Homo sapiens: one gene and its partners. The protein of the gene in region 1 purifies or fractionates together with the protein of each later gene. This does not show direct contact. Each region holds a gene or a part of one and is shown in the gene's direction. Other genes may lie near its edges. The genes, in order: DHX8, TRIM56, RBBP6, RBM27, PRP4K, POLR1B and RBM28.

Evidence for each region.
Region 2: the proteins of DHX8 (region 1) and TRIM56 purify together in Homo sapiens (co-immunoprecipitation; one large-scale study listed by IntAct). This does not show direct contact.
Region 3: the proteins of DHX8 (region 1) and RBBP6 purify together in Homo sapiens (co-immunoprecipitation; one large-scale study listed by IntAct). This does not show direct contact.
Region 4: the proteins of DHX8 (region 1) and RBM27 purify together in Homo sapiens (co-immunoprecipitation; one large-scale study listed by IntAct). This does not show direct contact.
Region 5: the proteins of DHX8 (region 1) and PRP4K purify together in Homo sapiens (co-immunoprecipitation; one large-scale study listed by IntAct). This does not show direct contact.
Region 6: the proteins of DHX8 (region 1) and POLR1B fractionate together in Homo sapiens (co-fractionation; one large-scale study listed by BioGRID). This does not show direct contact.
Region 7: the proteins of DHX8 (region 1) and RBM28 purify together in Homo sapiens (affinity purification with mass spectrometry, with the first as the bait; one large-scale study listed by BioGRID). This does not show direct contact.

Annotation. Positions count from the first base shown.
Region 1 is NC_000017.11:43,486,975-43,490,474, forward strand, and holds part of DHX8 (ATP-dependent RNA helicase DHX8), read left to right. Parts: intron 1-2,474; coding exon 2,475-2,560; intron 2,561-3,416; coding exon 3,417-3,489; intron 3,490-3,500.
Region 2 is NC_000007.14:101,095,481-101,098,467, forward strand, and holds the end of TRIM56 (E3 ubiquitin-protein ligase TRIM56), read left to right. Parts: 3' UTR 1-2,487; downstream 2,488-2,987.
Region 3 is NC_000016.10:24,563,566-24,567,065, forward strand, and holds part of RBBP6 (E3 ubiquitin-protein ligase RBBP6), read left to right. Parts: intron 1-44; coding exon 45-99; intron 100-1,231; coding exon 1,232-1,300; intron 1,301-3,500. UniProt on the Homo sapiens protein: E3 ubiquitin-protein ligase which promotes ubiquitination of YBX1, leading to its degradation by the proteasome.
Region 4 is NC_000005.10:146,227,605-146,231,104, forward strand, and holds part of RBM27 (RNA-binding protein 27), read left to right. Parts: intron 1-1,341; coding exon 1,342-1,433; intron 1,434-2,112; coding exon 2,113-2,306; intron 2,307-3,052; coding exon 3,053-3,313; intron 3,314-3,500. Other genes in the region: RBM27-POU4F3, read left to right, coding at 1,342-1,433, 2,113-2,306, 3,053-3,313. UniProt on the Homo sapiens protein: May be involved in the turnover of nuclear polyadenylated (pA+) RNA.
Region 5 is NC_000006.12:4,031,300-4,034,799, forward strand, and holds part of PRP4K (serine/threonine-protein kinase PRP4 homolog), read left to right. Parts: intron 1-259; coding exon 260-1,456; intron 1,457-3,500. UniProt on the Homo sapiens protein: Serine/threonine kinase involved in spliceosomal assembly as well as mitosis and signaling regulation. Connects chromatin mediated regulation of transcription and pre-mRNA splicing.
Region 6 is NC_000002.12:112,552,465-112,555,964, forward strand, and holds part of POLR1B (DNA-directed RNA polymerase I subunit RPA2), read left to right. Parts: intron 1-180; coding exon 181-352; intron 353-1,074; exon of another isoform or gene 1,075-1,226; intron 1,227-2,059; exon of another isoform or gene 2,060-2,115; intron 2,116-3,500. UniProt on the Homo sapiens protein: Catalytic core component of RNA polymerase I (Pol I), a DNA-dependent RNA polymerase which synthesizes ribosomal RNA precursors using the four ribonucleoside triphosphates as substrates.
Region 7 is NC_000007.14:128,337,409-128,340,908, reverse strand, and holds part of RBM28 (RNA-binding protein 28), read left to right. Parts: intron 1-1,117; coding exon 1,118-1,276; intron 1,277-1,587; coding exon 1,588-1,682; intron 1,683-2,107; coding exon 2,108-2,183; intron 2,184-2,566; coding exon 2,567-2,659; intron 2,660-3,500. UniProt on the Homo sapiens protein: Nucleolar component of the spliceosomal ribonucleoprotein complexes.

The DNA of each region.
Region 1 (3,500 bases):
GGGACTTAGTTCTCCCTCCACATTTCTTGAAAGAATGTAGCCTCTGAAGTTAGATTGCCTGGGTTTTATTCCTAGCTCCCCCCAGTTATTATTGGGTAGGTCAGTGTCTCAAACCGTCAGCTTCCTCATTGTAAAACATGACAATAATAGCACCTACTTATGAGGGTTGTTTTGGGGATCATGAAGTAACCCATAAAAAGCACTTAGCATAGTGCCTGGCACGTAGTAATGTTCAAAAAGTATTAACCATTGACATTATCGTTACTAACTTATTATGCATAAGATGTGTTCGTGTAGCCTGATGGCATTTGGCTTTCACTTTATCAGAAAGATAAAGGCACATTCCAGGATGGAAATTGTATGGTAGTACTACTTTATGAGTTAGTCATCTAGATCTTTCATGTTATTTATTCATTTACTTTTCTAGGATTAGCATTCAAATGAAAGCATTACAGTTTTTTTGTGGGTCTCATAGTATGAGGCTTATTATCTCAGTCTACTCCCGAGTAGCTAGGACTACAGATGCATACCACCACCCCCGGCTGATTTTTGTATTTTTTGTAGAGATGGTGTTTTGCCATGTTGCCCAGGCTGGTCTTTAACTCCTGGGCTCGAGCAATCTGCCCACCACAACCTCCCAAAGTGCTGGCATTACAGGCGTGAGCCACTGTCTGAAAGTAGCTTAATAAATAGCTCTAATATTAGAAGTTTCAAGAACTAGGCCGGGCACAGTGGCTCATGCCTGTAATCCCAGCACTTCGGGAGGCTGAGGCAGTAGGATTACCTGAGGTCAGGAGTTCAAGACCAGCCTGGCCAATGTGGCAAAACCCCGTCTCTACTAAAACTACAAAAATTAGCCAGGCGTGGTGGAGGGCACCTGTAATCCCAGCTACTTAGGAGGCTGAGACAAGAGAATTGCTTGAACCCGAGAGGCGGAGGTTGCAATGAGCCAAGATCGTACCACTGTACTCCAGCCTGAGAGACAGAGTGAGACTGTTAAAAAAAAATGAAAAAATAAAAAAAGTCCAGGTGCGGTGGCTCATGACTGTAATCCCAGAACTTTGGGAGGCCGAGGCAGGCAAATCACAAGGTCGTGGGTTCGAGACCAGCCTGGCCAATATGGTGAAATCCTGTCTGTACTAAAAATATAAAAATTAGCCGGTCATGGTGGCATGCGCCTGTAGCCCCAGCTACTTGGGAGGCTGAGGCAGAAGAATCGCTTAAACTCAGGGGGCAGAGGTGGCAGTGAGCCAAGATCCCGCCACTGCACTCCAGCCTGGGCGACAGAGCGAGACTCCGTCTCAAAAAAAAGAAAAAAAAAAGAAAAAAAGAAAGTTTCAAGAACTAGGCAGGTGTGCCGGGCACAGTGGCTTATGCCTGTAATCCCAGCACTTTGGGAAGCTGAGGCGGGTGGATCACAAGGTCAGGAGATCAAGACCATCCTGGCTAACATGGTGAAACCCTGTCTCTGCTAAAAATACAAAAAATTAGCCAGGCGTGGTGGTGGGCGCCTGTAGTCCCAGCTACTCGGGAGGCTGAGGCAGGAGAATGGCGTGAACCCGGGAGGTGGAGGTTGCAGTGAGCCGATATCGCACCGCTGCACTCCAGCCTGGGCGACAGAGCCAGACTCTGTCTTAAAAAAAAAAAAAAGAAGAACTAGGCAGGTTTGTGGAGAAAAATTTGGCAAAAAAGTCTTTCATCAATGTGGAGATTGCACCACCCAGCAGCTGCCTGGCCCTCATATACAGATTGGGTCTGTCCTTCTGTTGTGTGCCTCTGTGTGTCTACATGGGCTCATGCTTTTTATTGTCACCTTTACAGTCTAGTCTAGGTGGCAGCGTGCCCAGGTAGTGGTTTTGTGAGAAGAGGGTACCATGATGTGGGTCAAATAGGTCTTCCTAGTTTAAATGCACTCAAGGGCTACATTGAGCCATTTTGTAGTAATATCTTCCTTTCATTTGTATAAATTCTCTAGAATATGTGTGGATAATTTCAGCAGTCTAGATTTTCTCTCTTGTTTTCTTGTTTTGTTTTTTTTGTTTTTTTTTGAGACGGAGTCTCACTCTGTTGCCCAGGCTGGAGTGCAGTGGCGCAATGCCGGCTTACTGCAACCTCTGCCTCCCGGGTTCAAGTGATTCTCCTGCCTCAGTCTCCCAAGTAGCTGGGATTACAGGTGCCTGCCACCACACCCAGCTAATTTTTGTATTTTTAATAGAGACGGGGTTTCACTGTGTTAGCCAGGCTCATCTTGAACTCCTAACCTCAAGTGATCCGCCTGCCTTGGCCTCCCAGAGTGTTGGGATTACAGGCATGAGCCACCACACCTGGCCAGATTTTCTCTCTTTACCCTTACCAGATGGTGGTCTTTGTTTTTTATTACTGTTGGATAACCTAATTAGTTTTGTTTTCACCATACTTGAAACTGATTTCTTGTTCATGTCTCTTCTTTTCTGAATTCTGTTTCTTATTTGCAGCTGAATTTGTGATCAGTCTTGCTGAGAAAAATACCACCTTTGATACTTTTAAGGCTTCTCTCGTCAAAAATGGTGCAGAATTTACGGTATGTATATGTGGAGAAGATAATCTGTAGATATTAATGTTTTAATTTATGTTTGTTTGTTTGTTTTTTTTTTTGAGACAGAGTTTTGCTCTGTCGCCTGGGCTGGAGTGCAGTGGCGCCACCTCAGCTCACTGCAAGCTCCGCCTCCCGGGTTCACGCCATTCTCTTGCCTCAGTCTCCCAAGTAGCTGGGACTACAGGTGCCTGCCACCATGCCCGGCTAATTTTTTGTATTTTTAGTAGAGATGGGGTTTCACCGTGTTAGCCAGGATGGTCTCGATCTCCTGACCTCGTGATCCACCCGCCTCGGCCTTCCAAAGTGCTGGGATTACATAATTTATGTTTTAATGTCACTATTGATTTTAAATTTTGATAGGGTTTAATATAGGATTTTGATATAGGAAGGAGACAATTTTATACATATCAATTAAATAAGCCATTAAGTGTGTAATGTTTTCATGCCATTAAGTAGTGATGATTTAACCAGATTTTCTGTGATACCTCTAGGAAAACAGGGCAGGATTTTCATCATTAAGTCTTTGTAGGTATTTACATTCTTGTTCTGTGAGTCAGGAAGTTGGAAACAAGTTTTGGGGGTAGTTCTAAACCTTGGGAAATAAAATGGTTGCAGGGAGCCTAATAACTTTTCTCCCCAAAGAGTCCTAAATATCGGCTTTCTCTGAAGCTATTATACTAGGTTCATGCTACACCAGGTTGACACACTATGTTTCATGTATTCCAATTAGCTAAATTCAAGTGCGTAACCACCCTTCCCTACAGGACATTCTTTGCCTTTTAAGTGTATTTAAGCACTGATATGGGAGCTGACAATTTTCGTTCTATGTTTCTTTTCAAAGGATTCTCTTATTAGTAACTTGCTGCGTCTCATACAAACCATGCGGCCTCCAGCGAAGCCTTCCACTAGCAAAGGTAAGCAGAGC
Region 2 (2,987 bases), on another chromosome or scaffold:
GTGGAAACAGCAGCTCTCCGGAGTTGCATGGGAGCCATGGGCAGTGGTCCTGGCTGGTGAAATGATTCTAGCCACGTGGCCCACCCAGGGGGCAAAACAATAGAAACCTTCAGAAATGAAACGTCACCTGGCTGCAAGAAGATAGTCCCACAGGCGCCCTAGAGATGGGGATGCCAAGTGGCTTCTCGGGAAGCTGTAAGAATCCACAGGGCATTGTAAGATGGAGGGAAATATTAAGTTTTCTTCGTAAAGAGGTGAGGGGGGCGAGAGCAGCAAAGGACACTGGAAAATGAGAAGCATGGATGGGAAGTGTTGCATTGAGCATAATTTGGAGGTAAAATCTCCAACACCGTAACTGAGTGGCCTGGGGACCTGATAGAAAGCCCTGCTCAGGACTAAGGCAGAGTTCCCAGTTATATCGCAGATACAAAGAGACCAGGAACACGCTTGTAATCACAGCACTTAGGGAGGCTGAGGCGGGTGGATGACCTGAGGTCAGGAGTTCGAGACCAGCCTAGCCAACATGGTGAAACCCCCATCTCTACTAAAAATACAAAAATTAGCCAGGCGTGGTGGCACATGCCTGTAATCCCAGCTACTCAGGAGGCTGAGGTGGGAGAATCGCTTGAGCCCGGGAGGCAGGGGTTGCAGCGAGCTGAGATCGTACCACTGCACTCCAGCCTGGGCAACAGAGTGAGACCCTGTCTCAAAAAGAAAAAAAAAAAAGAGAGAAATCAGGAACATCATGAAAGATACAGCAAAATGTTTTACCCCAGCCCACTGCACCACACCTGGGATTGTGACAATTAACTTGATAAATTGTTCCTTTTCCTGTTCGGAACTGACTAGGTTGTGCGTGGATGGACCAGTGAAAAGAAAATCCTGTTTGGGTAGGGAAGAGGGAAGTAGAAAACCTCTTTCGTATTCTTGGTGTCAAGAAATGGGAAGAGAATGAGGGAGCAGAGACCTGGGTTGAGTGTTGGCTCTGCACTAAACAGCTGTGTGATCTTGGTCTAGTGCCTTAACCTCTCTGAGCCTCAGTTTGTACATCAGTAACATTGGGATAATGACATCCACATGCCCACTTCACAGAGCTGCTGTGAGGACTGGATGAGAAATGTAGAGAAGTATTTCGGACACCATAAAGCTCAAATACAAGGTGTTGGTTAGGAAAAGTTTCAACTGACTTGTACCCACCTGATACCCCTCCATCAGCATAAGCGTGTATGAGGATGTTAGGTACATGTGTTGTGAGTGAAAGCTCTGGAACACCCGAGTAGAGCTTTCTGCAAATCAGCTTCTCCTTCAGAGGAGACCATTTTGTTTTGCTTTCCAGCAGTTACTTGAAGAAGCCTTATCTGAAGTCACAACAGTGACTTCAGGAATAGAAGGGACCAATGGCCAGCTTGCTGAAATGTAATGCCATTCTTAAAAGCCAGCTAAGAATCAGACCGTATTAGTTAAGGACCCATAAGAGTAGACATTTAGAAAAAGTGAAAAATGGCAAGAGTGGCCCAATCTTTTGAGAGTTTAGAGAAAATATCATTTGGAAAGGGAGTAGCTCTCCTTCTATTTTAGCCTTATTATTACGGTATCTATAAAGCAATGCCATATTCTAAATCTGCAGAAATAAAATTCTAAGGGGCGAAAGTCCAAGGCAGAAGTCAAAAGTTTTGCAAGGAAACCGATGAGGTTGCTGACCTGAGCTGGGCAGGGTTGAACAGGCGAGTGCCAAGATCAAGGTCTCTGATTGTCTCTCCTTGAAAGGTAAGCAGAGAACTAGGGCTATCCCATAAATTAAGTGGGAGATTGGAAAGGGGTGCGGACTTCTGTATTGGGGAGAAGGTCTTGGATGAACTGGGGCAGAGAACTGCCAGAGAGAGTACCTAGGAATACGTTGTTAGCAGGAGAAAGACCAAGTTCAGATGCAGACTTGGGAAAGTAGGTAACTTGACCAAAGGTAGCAAAATTAGACTACCCAACTGGATTGTGAATGCAGTTTATGAAATGGATCAGGACAGGAGCAAAAATAGATTTTCTAGAAACTGCAGACTCCTGTGATTGGAGCAGTATACAAAGTACAGCAACATCAGACTAGATCTCACCTGAGGTGCTGGGTGAGAAATCTTAGGGACCAGATGGAAGAGGGCCTGTGTATAAAGACATTAGGAAGGAGGTTTGGGAGGGCAGCCTGACTTGTCTCCAGAGAAAGTTAGAACTGGTTGACTTAGCAACCAAGGGACACTGGGTCAAAGACGAGGAATCAGGACGTCGGTGCCTAGTGACTGAGCGCCAGCCCAGCCCATTTCTCTACATTGCCATGGGCTAAACCCAGTGTGCTGTAAACTCTTCAGTTCCTTTGGTTATGGATTTTGTATCTTTTCTGTGTTTCTTAATAAAGTTCTTTTGAAAAATGGGAACCTTTCTCAGATGGGAATTTTGTATCTTTCCTCTGTTTCTTAATAAAGTTCTTTTGAAAAATTGGAACCTTTTCTCAGAAGGGTTTATGGATACGGGGAACCTTTTTTTTTTTTTTTGAGACGGAGTTTCGCTCTTGTCGTCCAGGCTGGAGTGCAGTGGCACGATCTTGGCTCACTACAACCTCCACCTCCCAGGTTCAAGCAATTCTCCTGCCTCAGCCTCTTGAGTAGCTGGGATTATAGGCACAAGCCAACACGCCTGGCTAATTTTTGTACTTTTGGTAGAGACGGGGTTTCACCATGTTGACCAGGCTGGTCTAGAACTCCTGACCTCAAGTGATCCACCCGCCTCAGCCTCCCAAAGTGCTGGGATTACAGGCGTGAGCCACTGCACCCGGCTGGATACAGGGAACCTTTAACAACCAGGCCCAGATAGTGAAGGAAATCAGGTCATCAAAGCCACCCAATGGTAGGTAGCTCCCAGGGTGGCCACACAGATTCCTTGGGGACATTGCAGAAGCATGCACCTTCTGGGTGGGAACCAGTAGGTGATCTGGCCCATGCTGG
Region 3 (3,500 bases), on another chromosome or scaffold:
GTGCAATTTTGTATTTACCTACTGCTTTTATTTTTTGTTTCTAGGTCCAGTAAGAATAAATACTGCTCGTCCAGGTGGTGGTCGACCAGGCTGGGAACAGTGAGTAGATGTTTACAATAATCTTCAGATGATTGCCTGCAAACTAGATAATGGAAGGTCCAAACTAGGCAAACTAGATAATGGAAGGTCCAAACTAGGCAGCGGGTCGCTGCTCTTTATTGTAAACTTTCATGTGCCAGATTAACATTTTTTATGTAAAATGTCAAAATTCAAGCTTATATGAGGGTTTTTTTTAAATGAGCAAATCTTTTCTAAAATACAAAATTTTAAAAGTTTTTTTCTACTTTCATATCCAACAAATGGGGATCTTGACAGGACTTCAGTTTAATGAATAGATAAGAATTACTTGAAAAGTTATTTTAAATATGGTGGCAGTTATTTTCCTAGTAGGTTTAACTTTTTCTACCCTTAATTTGGATGATCAAAGTTTGATTTGAGTACATAAATACATAATAAGATTAACGTCTACCAAACAAAAATTTTTTGTCTGAAATCGAGTTGTTCTTGCCACCCTAAAATACAAAGAACTTTGATTTTCTCTGTGGGATATTTTATGGCATTAAAAATCAGCAGACTTACTTAATGTATTTTTAGTTATATAATTATTTCTGTTTATATAATCCGATTGAAAATTGATATATTCTTAAAAGTATGAGTTACTAGCAGGATGTATCAGTAGAAGGAACATAGGATTTAGAAACAGGTAGACTTGGGTTTGAATCCCATCTCCTTCATTTCCTAGCTGCATGACAGTGGTCTTGTGGTTTTACTCCCTAACATCCATTTCCTCGTTTGGATTTGGAATGACACTACCTACCTTAACATGTAAAATGACTTCATTGTGCCCAGCAGACAAAAGGGCTCTTTTCCTTGTATATAACAATAAGTTCACAGAGTAATTTATAGAGTGCTAATTAAAATATAATATTACATAAAGTAATCTATTTTGAGGTCTAGTTATTGTTATGATACAGTTAATTGGTGGGGGAAAGTTAGTTTTAAGTAAATATAATATTTACTCAGCTCTGTATCCGAAACAAATTTAAGAACTGGGGAGTAGGAAAAAGTTTTCAGAGTAGTTAAAATTGGTGTCTTAACAGCTATGCATGGAAAGGTCATGTATTATACCCATGGAGAAATACTTGAGCCTATTTTTTTTTCTCCCACACAGTTCCAACAAACTTGGCTATCTGGTTTCTCCACCACAACAAATTAGAAGAGGGGAGAGGAGCTGCTACAGGTAGGCATGCTAAAAATCTTGGAAAATAATCATCTTATTTTTTATATATATATCTCACCAAAGAAATTAAAGCACAGCAGTGGCAGGAAGGAAGGGGGTCATTTGTTTGTATTGTGCTTATCCCTCTTAAGTCCTGGGTAGTTGTCCTTAAAGAGGGCTAGAAAAGAATAAATTATATATAGTATCTTAAATGATGGTTTTTAAGACATTTTTAATATTCCTTCCCAGTGATTACTTTCTCCCTGTCAGCAAACAGCAGAGTATTGGCTTGCATTTACCCTCTTGGAAGTAGAAGAAAGTCAGGGGTCAGACAATATCTAAGATACCAGTTTAATTTAAGATTAAAGTTAACAAGCTCAGCTCCCAACTGTGAACAAGAATTGCAACTATTTCTCTTCTAGACCCCACTGTCCCAATCATCTCCCACCGTCTCTTTTCCAAAAGAAGAGACAGGAGATTGTTAGAGGCTCCTGCCCTAGTGGGCGGGTACAAGCAATATTAATCTAAGAAGTAAGAATCTTACTGTCTAGGTCAGGGGTCCCCAACCCTGGGCCACAGACCAGTATCCATCCTTGGCCTGTTAGGAACTGGGCAACACAGCAGGAGGTGAACAGCAGCTGAGCGAGCATTACCACCTGAGCTCCACCTCTTGTCAGATCAGCAGTGGCATTAAGATTCTCATAGGAGCATGAACCCTGTTGTGAACTGCGTGTGCAAAGGATCTGGGTTGCACGCTTCTTAGGAGAATCTAATGCCTGATCATCTAAGGTGGAACAGTTTTTACCCCCCTGCCCCCGTCCATGGAAAAATTGTCTTCCACAAAACAGCTCCCTGGTGCCAAAACGGTTGAGAACTGCTAGTCTAGGTCATAATCACCACCAGGATAAAGGAGCCTCCAAAACTTCATAACAAGAGTTTTGGCCAGGCATAATGGCTCATGCTGGTAATTTTAGAGCTTTGGGAGGCTGATGGGGGAGGATTGCTTGAGGCCTGAAGTTCAAGATTAGCCTGGGCAACATAGCAAGACTCTGTCTCTACCAAAAAAATAAAATAACCAGACATGGTGGCATGCACCTGTGGTCCCAGCTACCTGGGAGGCTGAGGCAGGAGGATCACTTGAGCTTAGGAAGTCAAGGCTGCAGTGAGCTATAACCACATCACTGCACTTTAGCCTAGGGGACAGAGTGAGACCCTGTCTCCAAAAAGAAGGAAATTCGGGATATCTTCTAGTGCTTCATTGCTAAACTTATGAAAGTTTACTATGTCATTACTGGATCACATTTTAAAAGAAGGTAATAGTTATTCATGGCTCACTGAAAAGATGCTTAAAATCTAAACCCCTACTGTTGCTGTTGTGTACCAATTATTTATAATTTAAAGCACCTCTAGTTTAACAGAAGTAACCAGTTCTGTTTGGTGAGGCACAAATTAGAAACTTAGCCAACACTGTTATTTTTACTTAAGCTTTTGAGAGAAAGCGTTGATATTTTCATTGTTAATTATAGAAGTTAAAACTAGAATTTATTCTGCTTTGTATGATCTTTACCCACTTCCTCCCTCAAAAAAGAGGTTACAGGAGTTGGTTTTCCTTCATTTAAACTTTTGGGGCCAGGTGTGGTGGCTCTCACCTGTAACCCCAGCACTTTGTGCAGATCACCTGAGGTCAGGAGTTTGAGAACAGCCTGCCCAACATGGTGAAACCCTGTCTCTCCTAAAAATACAAAAATTAGCTGGGCATGGTGGCACACGTCTCTAGTCCCAGCTACTTGGGAAGCTGAGGCAGGAGAATTCGCTTGAACCCAGGAGGTGGAGGTTGCAGTGAGCCAAGATTACACCACTGTAGTCCAGCCTGGACGACAGAGTGAGACTCTGTCTCAAAAAATAAAAAATAAATGAATAAGTAAGCTTTTGGGGAGAGCTAGGTCATAGCAGCATTAACCTGTCAGTGCCTTCAAAAGACAGTTTAGGAAGTAACAGGTAGTAATTAGTGGAGTGATAATCAGTCTGAACTTCATAAAAGAGAACTTTTAAATACAATATTTCCGTGTAGAGAAGGTCCTATAAACTTGCATCATCTCAGTCGAGACATGGCCTTAAAAATTATGTTGTAGAGTTATTTTTACAAATAAATTGTACTAATGTTGCTACACTAGTTGAATAGTTGGTTCTATTCCACTGTTTTTAAGTTTGAAAATAATTA
Region 4 (3,500 bases), on another chromosome or scaffold:
TATATATTCGGTTTGAGATAAACTTGTTCAAAGACAATAATAAAAATTACTGGTTCTCCAGGAGGCAGAGGTTGCTGTGAGCTGAGATAGCGCCACTGCACTCCAACGTGGGCGACAGAGTGAGACTCGGTCTCCAAAAAACAAAAGAATAAAATAAAAAAATAAAAATTACTGTTCTCTTTGTATTTCTGGTCAATTTTGACGGTTAGGCTTTAAGAGAAAGCCTTAACATTTCCATTAGTTCCAATACCATTTTTCCATAGTTTACATGAATTACTTAGTTTTATAGCATTCATTGATTTAACCATTTTTTCCTAAAACGTTTCCTATGGAATAAATCTGAAGAGCTACTCAAATGAATTATGTATGTATATATATTTCATAATGAGGAAAACATAACCGTTTTACTCTATGGTACTTAAGAGATTTGCTGTTTTAATTTGAAGAATGAATTGTTTATACTTTTCCTACACTACCATTCCCTACTTTAACATTAAAAAATTAACAAACTGCTTGTTGAAGTAATCTGAGCATCTTTTTTATTTCTGCTGTTGCCTGACTCTTTTGGCTATGAATTGACTTTATTTTTTCAGTGTATTTACTCGTGCCCTCTCTTGCGCCAGAAATATTATCAGGTAGATGGACATGTTTCATAATTTATAGAGGGACCATTCTTTCTTTTTTTTTTTTTTTTTTTTGAGACAAAGTCTCGTGTTGCCCAGGCTGGAGCGCAGTGGCGTGATCTCGGCTCACTGCAACCTCTGCCTCCTGGGTTCAAATGATTCTCCTGCCTCAGCCTCCCGAGTAGCTGGGACTACAGGCACGTGCCACCACACGTGGCTAATTTTTGTATTTTTAGTCGAGACAGGGTTTCACCATGTTGGCCATGCTGGTCTCAAACTCCTGACCTCAAGTGATCTGCCCGCCCCGGCCACCCAAAGTGCTGGGATTATAGGTGTGAATCACTGCGCCCGGCCGAGAGGGACCATTCTTATTTTGTTTTTTGTTTGTTTTTGAGAAAGGTCTCACTCTGTCATCCAGCCTGTGGTGCAGTGGTGTGATCATGGCTTAATGCAGCCTCAAACTTCTGGGTTCAAGCAGTCCTCCCATATTGGCCTCCTGAGTAGCTGGGACTACATACAGGTGCATCCCACCATGCCCAGCTAACTTATTTTATTTATTATTTTTAGTAGAGATGGAGTCTCCCTGTGTTTCCCAGGCTGGTCTCAATATCCTGGCCTCAAGCAGTCTTCCCACCTGGACCTCGTAAAATGTTGGGATTACAGGTGTGAGCCACCGTGCCTGGCCCTGCTCTTACTTCTACTCAATATTTTCATATAGGTATTTCAGGAGCCAGCAGAGGAAGAACGAGATGGCAGAAAAAAGAAATATCCTAGTCCCCAGAAGACTCGTTCAGAATCTAGTGAACGAAGGTTTGTGTTTATCTTTAATTAGGAAGACATTGATAACTCACTTTTTAGTTGCCTTGCAAGGACATTAAAGGGATTTTTAATATATATACTTACTCCTCTCTCTGTAAACTCATTAAAGAAAGATGTTACCTTTCTTCCTTTCATTCTTTCTGTTTTTTGTCTTTTGTCTTACTTTCTGTTCCTTTTATAAACAGTCATTATTATGTGTTTTCCCCAAGAGCTCAGGGGTGGGAGCAGTCCCCTTAGAGAATATTAATGAAATGTTCCATTTGGTTAGGGGTGCTTAGTATTAAAATCATCCAAGTCATTTTTTTATGACAAGTAGTACAACTTGTATATTGAATCATCAGCCTAACATCAAAAATTGGTCTTTGTTTAGGAACACTTTTTTTTGAGCCTTTTTTCTTTTCTATTTCAAATTTTCTGTTTTCCCCTGCCCACCCCTCCCCATACTTTGGATTCACCTCTTTTTTTCATTTCTCCCCACCCAGTATAATTGCAGGAGGGATGTTTTTTCTCTGTATATATTTGATTAGAGGAATTATGTGGTAGATTTGCAACTTTCTAAAAAAGCATAGATATGCATTTGGATGACTCAAGAGTAGTATTTATACTATAGATTTGTTTGCAGACTTGGTTTCTATAGCCTGCATATGGCTTTTATATCTGTATATTATAGGACACGTGAGAAAAAAAGAGAAGACGGGAAATGGAGAGACTATGACCGGTACTATGAGCGGAATGAATTGTACCGTGAGAAGTATGACTGGAGAAGAGGCAGGAGTAAGAGTCGGAGTAAGAGTCGAGGCCTGAGTCGCAGTAGAAGCCGAAGTAGGGGGCGCAGCAAAGACCGGGATCCAAATAGGAATGTTGGTGAGTAGATGAGTGTCCCCCTAAAAACTCTGTAGTTATTTATCTGTCTCTATCACAGGGGTGCAAGAAATTCTCTTAAAGTTGTACCTTTAATATGTCTGAGCAGTGTAAAAACTGGAATTGTCTCAAGAAGCTCAATATCCATTTTGTTAGAAAACAGGGCTCTATTCTGGGGATGGAGTCAAGGGAGTTTGATTAAAAAGGAGCTATTCAAGTGTATCATTGTACATGTCTAGACTTAACTCATTTTGTATAATGGATACAAATATCCTTTAATCAATAAAGCTATCACGTGAGGAAGAGGGTTGCCTGCTTTTCTTCTTTGTTTGGTTTTCTAAAAGTAATTGATTTGCTGTAAGGGTGCTTGAAGTTTATAAAATTAAATGGATAAAATAAGTAGATTATTGGGATCCCAACCACTCATCTTCTGAGATACAAGTTTGGAAGTCAGTTCTTAGATAACCTTCTTATTAAATATCTGTGGAGAAGCTGACTCTTTTTCAGTTAAGTGTAACTGATGTTGATACTATAAAAGATGATTTTGCACAAGTTCTTGCCCAAGATATGTCACTTGTTGATGTCCCTGCTTTTAGGATATATTAATAAAGAGAGGAGTATGAAATATGGATAGCTAGATAAGTTTAATTCAACATTCTCATGTTTTCTATGTGAGAAAATAAATATAGTTTAAGAACATGAAATATCTGATCTCTTTGTTTTCTGTTTTTAATTTTGTCTCCAAGTAGAGCACAGGGAAAGATCGAAGTTTAAGAGTGAAAGGAATGACCTGGAGAGTTCCTATGTGCCTGTGTCTGCACCACCTCCAAACTCTTCTGAGCAGTATTCCTCTGGGGCACAGTCTATTCCCAGCACTGTTACTGTGATCGCACCTGCTCACCACTCTGAAAACACAACTGAGAGTTGGTCTAATTACTATAACAATCATAGCTCTTCCAATTCTTTTGGTCGAAACCTACCACCAAAGAGGCGATGCAGAGATTATGATGGTAAAAATCACCACCTTTTCTCATATTGTGCCCAAAAGTACTAGCAGAGCAAATGTTGCATATATTGCATATCTTTTAGTTATAGTCCAGTTTATTTTATTTTATCTTATTTTATTTATTTTGAGACAGAGTCTTGCTCTGTCACCCAGGATGGAGTGCAGTGGCTCGATCTTGGCTCGCTGCAACC
Region 5 (3,500 bases), on another chromosome or scaffold:
CTCACTCCATTAGGGATTTCCTCTAATACTTTTGGTGAGTTCAACCATTAGAAACACAATAAAGTTGTATCACTATCCAACTCAGTTCTTGCCGTAGACCTTCTTTGAAATAAAATGTCTGAAGCTGTTCTGAAAAAATTTTAGTGACTGACTTCATGTATTACATTGAGATGTATTTTCTCATTACTGTTATTTTCTTATGGCTCTTTGAATACTTGATAAATGATATGATTTTAAAATGTGTTTGATATATTTATAGGATGGAAGATGCTAATTCTGAAAAGAGTATAAATGAAGAAAATGGAGAAGTATCAGAAGACCAGTCTCAAAATAAGCACAGTCGTCACAAAAAAAAGAAGCATAAACACAGAAGTAAACATAAGAAACATAAACATTCCTCAGAAGAAGACAAGGATAAAAAACATAAACATAAGCATAAACATAAGAAACACAAAAGAAAAGAGATTATTGATGCTTCTGATAAAGAGGGTATGTCTCCAGCAAAAAGAACTAAACTTGATGATTTAGCTTTGCTAGAAGACTTGGAAAAACAGAGAGCCTTGATTAAGGCCGAACTTGATAATGAGTTAATGGAAGGAAAGGTCCAGTCTGGTATGGGGCTCATTTTGCAAGGTTATGAGTCTGGCTCTGAAGAAGAGGGGGAAATTCATGAAAAGGCAAGAAATGGAAATAGGTCTAGTACTAGATCTTCAAGTACAAAGGGGAAACTTGAACTTGTGGACAATAAAATTACTACAAAGAAACGAAGTAAAAGCAGATCCAAAGAACGGACTAGACATAGGTCTGATAAAAAGAAAAGTAAGGGGGGTATTGAAATCGTTAAAGAGAAAACAACTAGGAGCAAGTCAAAGGAGAGGAAAAAATCTAAAAGCCCATCCAAAAGAAGTAAGTCTCAAGATCAAGCAAGGAAATCAAAATCCCCTACCCTTAGAAGGCGATCTCAAGAGAAAATTGGTAAGGCCAGATCTCCTACTGATGATAAGGTTAAAATTGAAGATAAAAGTAAATCAAAAGATAGGAAAAAATCCCCAATTATAAATGAAAGTAGAAGTCGCGATCGAGGTAAAAAATCCAGATCCCCAGTTGATTTAAGAGGTAAATCCAAAGACAGAAGGTCACGGTCCAAAGAGAGAAAATCAAAACGGTCTGAAACTGATAAAGAAAAGAAGCCAATTAAATCTCCCTCTAAAGATGCTTCATCTGGGAAAGAAAATAGGTCACCCAGCAGAAGACCTGGTCGTAGTCCTAAAAGAAGAAGTTTGTCTCCAAAACCACGTGATAAATCAAGAAGAAGCAGGTCTCCACTTTTGAATGATAGAAGATCTAAGCAGAGCAAATCCCCCTCGCGGACACTGTCTCCTGGGAGAAGAGCCAAGAGCCGATCCTTAGAAAGAAAACGACGAGAACCAGAGAGGAGACGACTTTCTTCTCCAAGGTAACTTGTGTACAAAATGTTAAAGCTTTTTACCAGTGCATGAGATTTTAAACGGAAAACTAGAACTTGTGGACCATTAAAAATGAAGTAGTAAGTAAAAATAAAAATAAATGAAGTAGTAATGAGTTTCATAATTTTAAGTAACCCAATCCATTAACCATGTTAATATTTGCACTTTTTTCGATGAGTATTTTAAGTATAGGTGTTTAACAAATACTGAGCTTGATGATAGAATTGGGTTTTTTCACATTCTTGATTTAATACCTAGTTTGCTAAGGCACTCCTTTCAATCCATGTAATTTGGCTGATAAATCTTCATTGGGGGCGTTTAGAGAGAGGATTATTACTTCATGAACAGTGTAGGCTGAAACTCTTAACTTTGAAAAGGGGGAAAGGTAATCAGTTTAACAATTGTGTTCTGTTCATTCTCTTGTATTTGCATGAGTTTTAAATTTTAACAGTATAAATAGAAACCAATACCAATATTTTTTGGTCCCCAAAGTATAATTAAAATGGAAAATTTTGTATTAATACATATAATCTCATTGTTGAAAAGTAGTATCTCTTAAGCTTAAGAAGAATAGTATATGAAATTATTTTGTACTATTTGAATAATATATTGTCTTAGTTCTTATAAATCCTCATGTGATTATCTTAACTCATGAGGTGAAGGGGCTCTCATACCTAATTTATAAATGAAATAGAATCAGAGAATGTATATAATTTACGTAGGATCATAGAACGGAAGTATTTGCGGGGAGGAGTGTTTATACCACTTAAACTACTTTAGAAACAGATTTCTTAATGTCTTTTTTGTATTTAGTATTTAAGTATTATGAAATTGCCAGCTAGGTTTTGCTTATTAAAAGAGTATTGGCTTATACTATATAAGGATGTTATTAATTCCTAGCCGTTTACTGTGTTCATAATAATATTTTCTGTGAATGGGTATAAATATAAACTCACCCTGAAAGTGAAGTCATCATATTTTCAGAGAAATTTCAAATTTTATTTCCAAGTGCTGTGTCTTAAGAGCGTCTTGATTCTTTACTTCTGAGTGGCACTGTAATGAAATAGCCCCTTTTTCCTTTGGCTTCCTGGATTGAGGCAGTGATTAGTTTTACTGATTCTGTTATCTCAAGTGCTTCTTAATTATCTTGGTGGTCTTTCAGTTTGCTTTGTTTGAAGAGCAAATTCTGAGGAGTTTATTAAGGACTAGAGCTGAGTATTTGAAACAAAAATATTTTTTTAAATTACAGAAGTGATGCATACTTACTTATTAAAGAGAAATCCAAATAAGCCTGTAAATTGTCTCCCTTTTCATTTCTCCACTACCACTCCTTAGAAATTTACTTTATCTTAGGTCTTTCCTTGTACAGACAATAACATGAATATAAGGGAATTTTTTTTTTTAACAAAACTGGAGTCATATTATTCATATTCACATGTGGCTTGCTTTTTTCAGGAAACATTTCTGCGACAAAACATATAGATTGTTTTTCATTCTGCCTGACAGCAACTGGTATTTCAGTGTAGATGTATTATAGTATCATTCTCCTATTGAAACTGATGAAAAATTTAGGTTGGTTCCAGTTTTTCACTATTATATGCGAAGATGTGCCTTGGTTATATGTGAGGTTTCTTTATAGAATAGACTCATAGAAGTGGACTTGCAAAGTCTCAGAGTATGTACATTTACATTGTAGAAAGTTATTGCTAAATTTCCATCCAGGAAAGTTAGGTCAATTTCTACTTCTACTTCTATGACTATGTGAACTGCCCCTTTTCCTGAAACTGTATTAGGAAAGTTTAGGAAAACCTTTATTACCAGGATACCATATAGTATTTTGTCACTCTTAAAAACAGAACAAAAAACCCAAAAATTGTTTTAATCGAAATTTCTTAGGTGACTAGTGAGGGTGAACATTTTTATTTTCTTTATTTTTATTTATTTATTTTATTTTATTTTATTTTTTGAGATGGGGTCTTGCTCTGTTGCCAGGCTGGAGTGCAGTGGCGTGGTCTCGGCTCACTGCAACCTCTG
Region 6 (3,500 bases), on another chromosome or scaffold:
GCATAGCCACCAGTCACATGATAAGCACTTCAAATGTGGCCAGTGTAGCTCAAAAACTGAATGCTTAATTTTATTTAATTAAAGTTAAGTAAGCATGAGTTGGGGATCTTGGTTAATAGAATATTAAGTAGTATTACCAACTGAATTGTTTTAAGCTTTTTTTTTTTTCTGTTTTCACAGCCAGTGCATCTGTATCCACTTGAAATCCAATACTGAAAAGTTTTATATGCTTTGTCTCATGACGCGAAAGCTCTTTGCTTTAGCCAAAGGAGAGTGCATGGAGGACAATCCTGATAGTTTGGTGAACCAGGAAGTCCTCACACCGGGTCAGCTCTTCCTTATGTTCCTGAAGGTAAATGCATGCTATGTCCACCCTTGGCCAGTGGTACCACTTGTGGAATGGCGTGACTTTGTCCAGCAGCACTGTTTTCTGCATGTTTATAGTTTCTAGTTTTGGCATTTTGTGTGGTCTCTTTTTTGTTTGTTCATTTAGCAGTAAGGGGATCAGAAATCCTGGCTTACACCAGGTTTGGAAATTTGCTTAATATTTTTATGTAAAGATCACATCAAATCTTGGTCACAGTGTTAATGATAAAAAGCAAATGGCCTGTATTTATACATATGGTTGATCCTCATTATTTGTAGATTCTGTATTTGTGAATTCACTCACTGGCTAAAATTTATTTGTAACCCTAATGTCAGTGCTCAGTGCTTTCATGATTATTCACATACATGAGCAGAGCAGTGAAGAATTTGGGTCTCCTGAGGCAAATGTTACAGCTGAGGCGGGGCAGGGCGATGCTCTGCTTTCCGGTTTCAGCTCATACTATAAAGAGGGTCCTTTTTGAGGTGCATTTGGTGCTATGTTTTTCACATTGTCGTGCTTCTTATTGGTGACTTTTTTGTTTTTTTTTGAGACAGGGTCTCAGCCTCAACCTCCCAGGCTCAAGCAATCCTCCCACCTCAGCCTCCTGAGCAGCTGGGACTATAGACATTCACCACCACACCCGGCTAATTTTTAATTTTTTTTGTAGAAACAGGGTCCCACTATGTTGTACAGGCTGGTCTCAAACTCCTGGGCTCATGTGATCCTCCTGTTTCAGCCTCCCAAAGTGATAGGATTGGAGACATGAGCCACTGAGCCTGGCCAGTTTTTGCTGTTTATAATGGTCCCCAAGCATAGCACTGAAGCGCTGTCTAGTGTTCAGTGTTAATGAATTAACAAGGTATGTTAAATAAGGTGCCTTTCAACAAAAGCTGACATTAAACAAGATTGTATATTGATCCGTTGACCAGAATGTTATGACCAGAGACTTGCAGGAACCCAGCCCTGTATTTTTCCCCAGGAGTAGTGGTTTTATATGTGTTAATTCAGTGTTCATTAGAACATAGCTACTGTGAGTAGTGAAATTTGACTGTAGATGTATATAGAGAGAAAGTTGGCATGGCACAAAAATGATTTCATAAGAATATTGATTCAGTGGCATTTTATATTTTGCATCTTATCCTCAAAAAGATGTAATCTAAGAGTTAATATATTTTTAGTAGAGGTGGGGTTTCACCATTTCAGCCAGGCTGGTCTCGAACTCCTGACCTCAGGTGATCCACCTGCCTCAGCCTCCCAAAGTGCTGGGATTACAGGTGTGAGCCACTGTGCCTGGCTTCTAATTTATTTTATTTTATTTTGAGACAGAGTCTTGCTCTGTCTCCCAGGCTGGAGTGCAGTGCTACGATCTCAGCTCACTGCAACCTCCACCTCCCGGGTTCAAACAATTCTCCTGCCTCAGCCTCCCGGGTATCTAGGATTACAGGCGCGTGCCACCATGCCCGGCGAATTTTTTTATTTTTAGTAGAGACGGGATTTCACCATGTTGGCCAGGCTGGTCTCGAACTCCTGACCTCAAGTGAGCCACCCACCTTGGCCTCCCAAAGTGCTAGGATTACAGGCGTGAGCTACCACACCCGGCCTTCTAATTTCTTATCTAGGTAGTAATTCTTATTTACATTCTTCCCGAAAGGTAATAATCTTTGTTTCTGTTTGCTCTGTCCATAAAATTAGATTGAAAAATTTCAGCAGCCTACAATTTTCCTGACAAAAATTGAAAGCAGGCAGCGTAAGTTTTCTCTTATTAATTTAATGTTATTAAATTAACCTTTCAAGTAAAGGTTAATTTACATTTCCCATCTACTTAAAGTGAAGCATGGTGGGCTCATTGTATTCCACACTTATAAATGTGTCTTTATTCCACATCAATTCCTAATTAGGAAAAAAAAGAAAAGAAAAAGAAATGAGACCAGGAGTACAGTGGCTCATGCCTGTAATCCCAGCACTTTGGGAGGCTGAGGCAGAAGGGTAACTTGAGCCCAAGGAGTTTGAGACCAGCCTGGACAGCACAGAGAGATCGCTACAGAAATAATAAAAACTATTAGCAGTGGCTGGGTGTGGTGGCTCACGCCTATAATCCCAGCACTTTGAGATGCCAAGGTGGGTGGATCTTCTGATCTCAGGAGTTCAAGACTAGCCTGGGCAACATTGCAAAACCCTGTCTCTACAAAAAATATAAAAATTAGCTGGGCATGCTGGCATGCTGCAGCAATTCCAGCTACTCAGGAGGCTGAGGTAGGAGAGTTGCATGAGCCTGGGAGACGGAGGTTACAGTGAGTTGAGATCACGCCACTGCACTCCAGCCTGGGCGACAGAGCAAGACCCTGTCTCCAAAAAAAACCTGTTAGCTGGGCATGGTGGTACATGACTGTGGTCCCAGCCACTTGGGAGGCTGAGGTGGGATCCCTGAGCCCAGGAGGTCAAGGCTGCAATAAGGGGTGATTTTGCCACTGCACTCTAGCCTGGGCAAAAGAGCAAGACCTTATCTCAAAAAGAAAAAAGAAAAAAACACCTGGTGCGGTGGCTCACACCTGTAATCCCAGCACTTTGGGAGGCCGGGGTGGGAGGATCACTTGAGCCCAGGAGTTTGAGATCAATCTGGGCAAACAGCCCAGAGACAAAACTTCGTCTCTACAAATAATTTTAAAAAAATTTAGCCAGGCCTGGTGGGCCACACCTGTGGTCCCAGCTACTCAGCAGGCTGAGGTAAGAGGATTGCCTGAGCCCAGGCGGCGGAGGATGCAGTGTGCTGTGATCACGCCAGTGCACTCCAGCCTAAGTGACAGAGCAAGACCCTGTCTCAACAGAAAAAAGAAATGAGTCTTCTGTAGCAAGGCGTTACTAAGGTGACCTGTGTCAGCAACAAGAGAAACCAAGGGAAAATTGGGGCTTTTTCAGAGAATTCATTGCCGAGTATCTGATTTCCTTACCAGCTACGTTAAAGCTTTTAAACCTTTGAGTTTGGAGCATAAAAACAATCTTCAGAAGATACATAACCATGACATAAGATGAATTATAGACTGTTAAAAATTCACATTGTATTTACATTGAAATAAGCAATATAAAATTGAAAAATAGCAACCATATTTTCTGTATTATTGTAGATTAACCATAA
Region 7 (3,500 bases), on another chromosome or scaffold:
ACCCTGTGTGACATTAACCAATTCACTTACTGTCTTCCATCTCAAATTACTTACTTGGAAAGAAGGGGTGATAATATTTGCTTTACCTATTTTGAGGTGTTCTAAAGATAAAATGAGACAAGAATGCACAGCTGCTTTGGAAAGGTTTAATTTGATATCGACAGCTAAGGCGTTGGTAATAGTGGTCATAACATCTGCAGTCTCTCTGAGCAGTATTTATTGTTTGAGGTTCTTTTGTCTGGGCCTCAGGCATTTATTGCTGATCTATTTTGAGGAGTAACTGCATTATTGTGTTCTGATTTTTGAAGCTACCATACTGTCTTAATTCATTTTCTGTTGCTTATAAGAGAATACCTGAAACTAGGTACTTTGTAAAGAAAAATTTATTTCTTAAGTTCTGGAGGCTGAGAAGTCCAAAGTTTAGTGGCTGTATCTGGTGAGAGCCTTCTTGTTGGTGGGGACTCTGCAAAATGCCCAGACAGTGCAGGGTGTCATGGCGAGGGGGCTGAGCATGCTAATGTGCTTGCTCAGGTCTCTCTTCCTCTTCTTATAAAGCCCCCAGCTCCACTCTCATGATAGCCCATTAATCTATTAACCCATTAATCCATAAATTGATTAATCCATTCCTGAAGACAGAGTCCTCTGATCCAGTCACCTCTTAAAGACTCCACCTTTCAATACTGCTACATTGGGGATTAAGTTTCCAACACATGAAATTTGGGGGACACATTCAAACCATAGCATATACTTACCTTTCCTGCCTTCTTTGGTGATGTTTTGTTCTTTTTGATGTTGAGTTCTTTGAGGGCCTCATATGTCATGGATTCTCTGTTTTCTTGGGATTATCAAGAAAGGGGGAAGAAGGGGAGCTAACAGCAAAGACACTAAATTAAAAGAGGAGGAAGGCTAACAGTTTCTAAGCAAAGTGGGGAGGGAACCACTGATACCACCCTTGTTTCTCGCCCTCCTGAGACTTTTGGCAAACTGATAGCAAGATGGGTTGGCAGTATATCCTCTAGCTTAGGCTTTGAGGATTTACTCATTTAGTGCTCTTGGCTTATGATTCTCTCTCCTTTTCACACTGCCCCTCCACTCCCTCCCCACTCCATTATTCCAGGGAGTAAGGCATGTCGAGGCTTTGGCTATGTCACTTTTTCAATGCTGGAAGATGTTCAGAGGGCCCTCAAGGAGATTACCACCTTTGAAGGTTGCAAGATCAACGTGACTGTTGCCAAGAAAAAACTGAGGAACAAGACAAAGGAAAAGGGGAAAAATGGTGAGTTTCTAGTAATTGAAGGAAGTTTTTCTCCCAGGGTGAGGAGGAGCACTATGAAAATGAAAGAGGGAGGCATGGAGGTAGCTTCTAGAACTTAAAGCTTTTTGCATTTCTTTTTGATCTCCAAAATCATCCAGTGTATTGTGATACTCATTTTAGTTCTTTGGAAAAATCTGGTATTCCTTGGTATTATTGCCACACTTAACCCTGTGGTAAATGCCATCTGTCGCCAGTAGCTTTTTTTTCTGTGATGTTCTGGCGTAGAAGTGGGTGATTTTCGAGTACTTATTCCATTACCTCTTATTTTTTAGAAAACTCAGAGTGCCCAAAGAAGGAGCCGAAGGCTAAAAAAGCCAAAGTGGCAGATAAGAAAGCCAGATTAATTATTCGGAACCTGAGCTTTAAGGTAAGTGAGAGAGAAAATGAACATTGCATGTTTTGAAGGCTTTTAGAGCCAAGATGTGATCATTAGTAGAACTCCTCACCAAGATGGTATAATTGGGCTTAATTCCTTCTGGGAATCAACCTTACCCCTGTTGAATTCAGAAAGTGGGCCTGTGTAATAAGGGCACTAAGTGTGAAGCTGCTTTCCTTTTTGGGGAAACTACTACTGAGAAAGAAAAGGTAGAAAAAGTTCTCAGACGTCTGTGTTTTTGCCTCTTAGGTACAAAGTAAAATGTCTTCTATTTAGAAACATTTGATGTCCTAGTATCAAAAATAAAAAAAAGTAAACATTCATGTTTTTCATAATTAATGAATTTAGTAGTTGATGTTTTATGTTAATTTGCTGTGATTGTGTTTCTCTTTTTCTTTCTTCACTTTTGGCTTCAGTGTTCAGAAGATGACTTGAAGACAGTATTTGCTCAATTTGGAGCTGTCCTGGAAGTAAATATCCCTAGGAAACCAGGTACTAATAAACCTTCACTTGGTGTGGATTACGTTAGTTAACATATTACCCTTGAACAAACATATATGATATATATGAAGTATTTGGCACAGTGCTTCACATCTAATGAAAACCCAAATAATGGTTTTATTCCCCTGATGATATTTTCTGTTGGATCAGAATTAGTTTTAGAAGGCGAGTTAGTTTGAGAAAGTGTTTTGCTCTCCCCAAGTCCAAGTCAGAGTATACTCAGTAAGAAGATGTAAGCAATTGCTTTGGGGAAGGGCCTGACCTGCTGGCAGAATTTGGGCCATCTTGTGGGCCTGAATTGCAGTAATTTACTTCTTAGTATTCTGGCTACCTCCTGCTGCCTCTCACTTCTTTCTTTGTGCATTTGCACACAGATGGGAAGATGCGCGGTTTTGGTTTTGTTCAGTTCAAAAACCTCCTAGAAGCAGGTAAAGCTCTCAAAGGCATGAACATGAAAGAGATAAAAGGTAAGCTTTCTATACCCATATCATTGACCCAGATATTTCTGGTGTTTTGGTGAATTAGTGTAGTAACCCACTTTCTGCATTTTCAAAAGATGTTTGCATTATTAAGAGTCTCATTGCTAATACGGTAGCTATTTAGGTGAAATACTCTAGAACTTGATCTTGGGGTTAAACTTGAAAGAACCCTTGCCAGTATTCTTTCTTTTATCTGGTGAGAGTGTCCTTTTAAATCCCTAGTGAAAAATGTCCCTGAGATAATTGCTGATAGATGCAGGTTGGTATCTAGATTCCTCCTTGGTTATATCACTGTTCAGCATCTGTGGGCTATTTATTAAACTGACTGTGATTTATATATTGACTTATCAAGTACTGTGCCTAAAGAAGTTATTGCCGGCCAGGTGCGGTGGCTCACACCTGTAATCCTAGCACTTTGGGAGGCCGAGGAGGCAGGTGGATCACCTGAGGTCAGGAGTTCAAGACCAGCCTGGTCAACATGGCGAAACCCCGTCTCTACTGAAAATACAAAAATTAGCCAGGTGTGGTGGTGCATGCTTGTAATCCCAGCTACTCAAGAGGCTGAGGCAGGAGAATCGCTTGAACCTGGAGGCGGAGGTTGCAGTGAACTGAGATGGCACCACTGCACTCCAGCCTGGGCGACAGAGCGAGACTGTGTCTCAAAAAAAAAAAAAAGAAGTTATTGCCGTAGAGATGTCCTAGCTTCCAGGTAGGGTGCAGATGATTCCAGAATGCCTGTTTTGATTCCTGATAGTCTAACTGGAAACATAGTTCTAATTCTTTATTTTTTTACTCCATCTTATCCCAGGTGTGGTGGCTATGTAGAAAG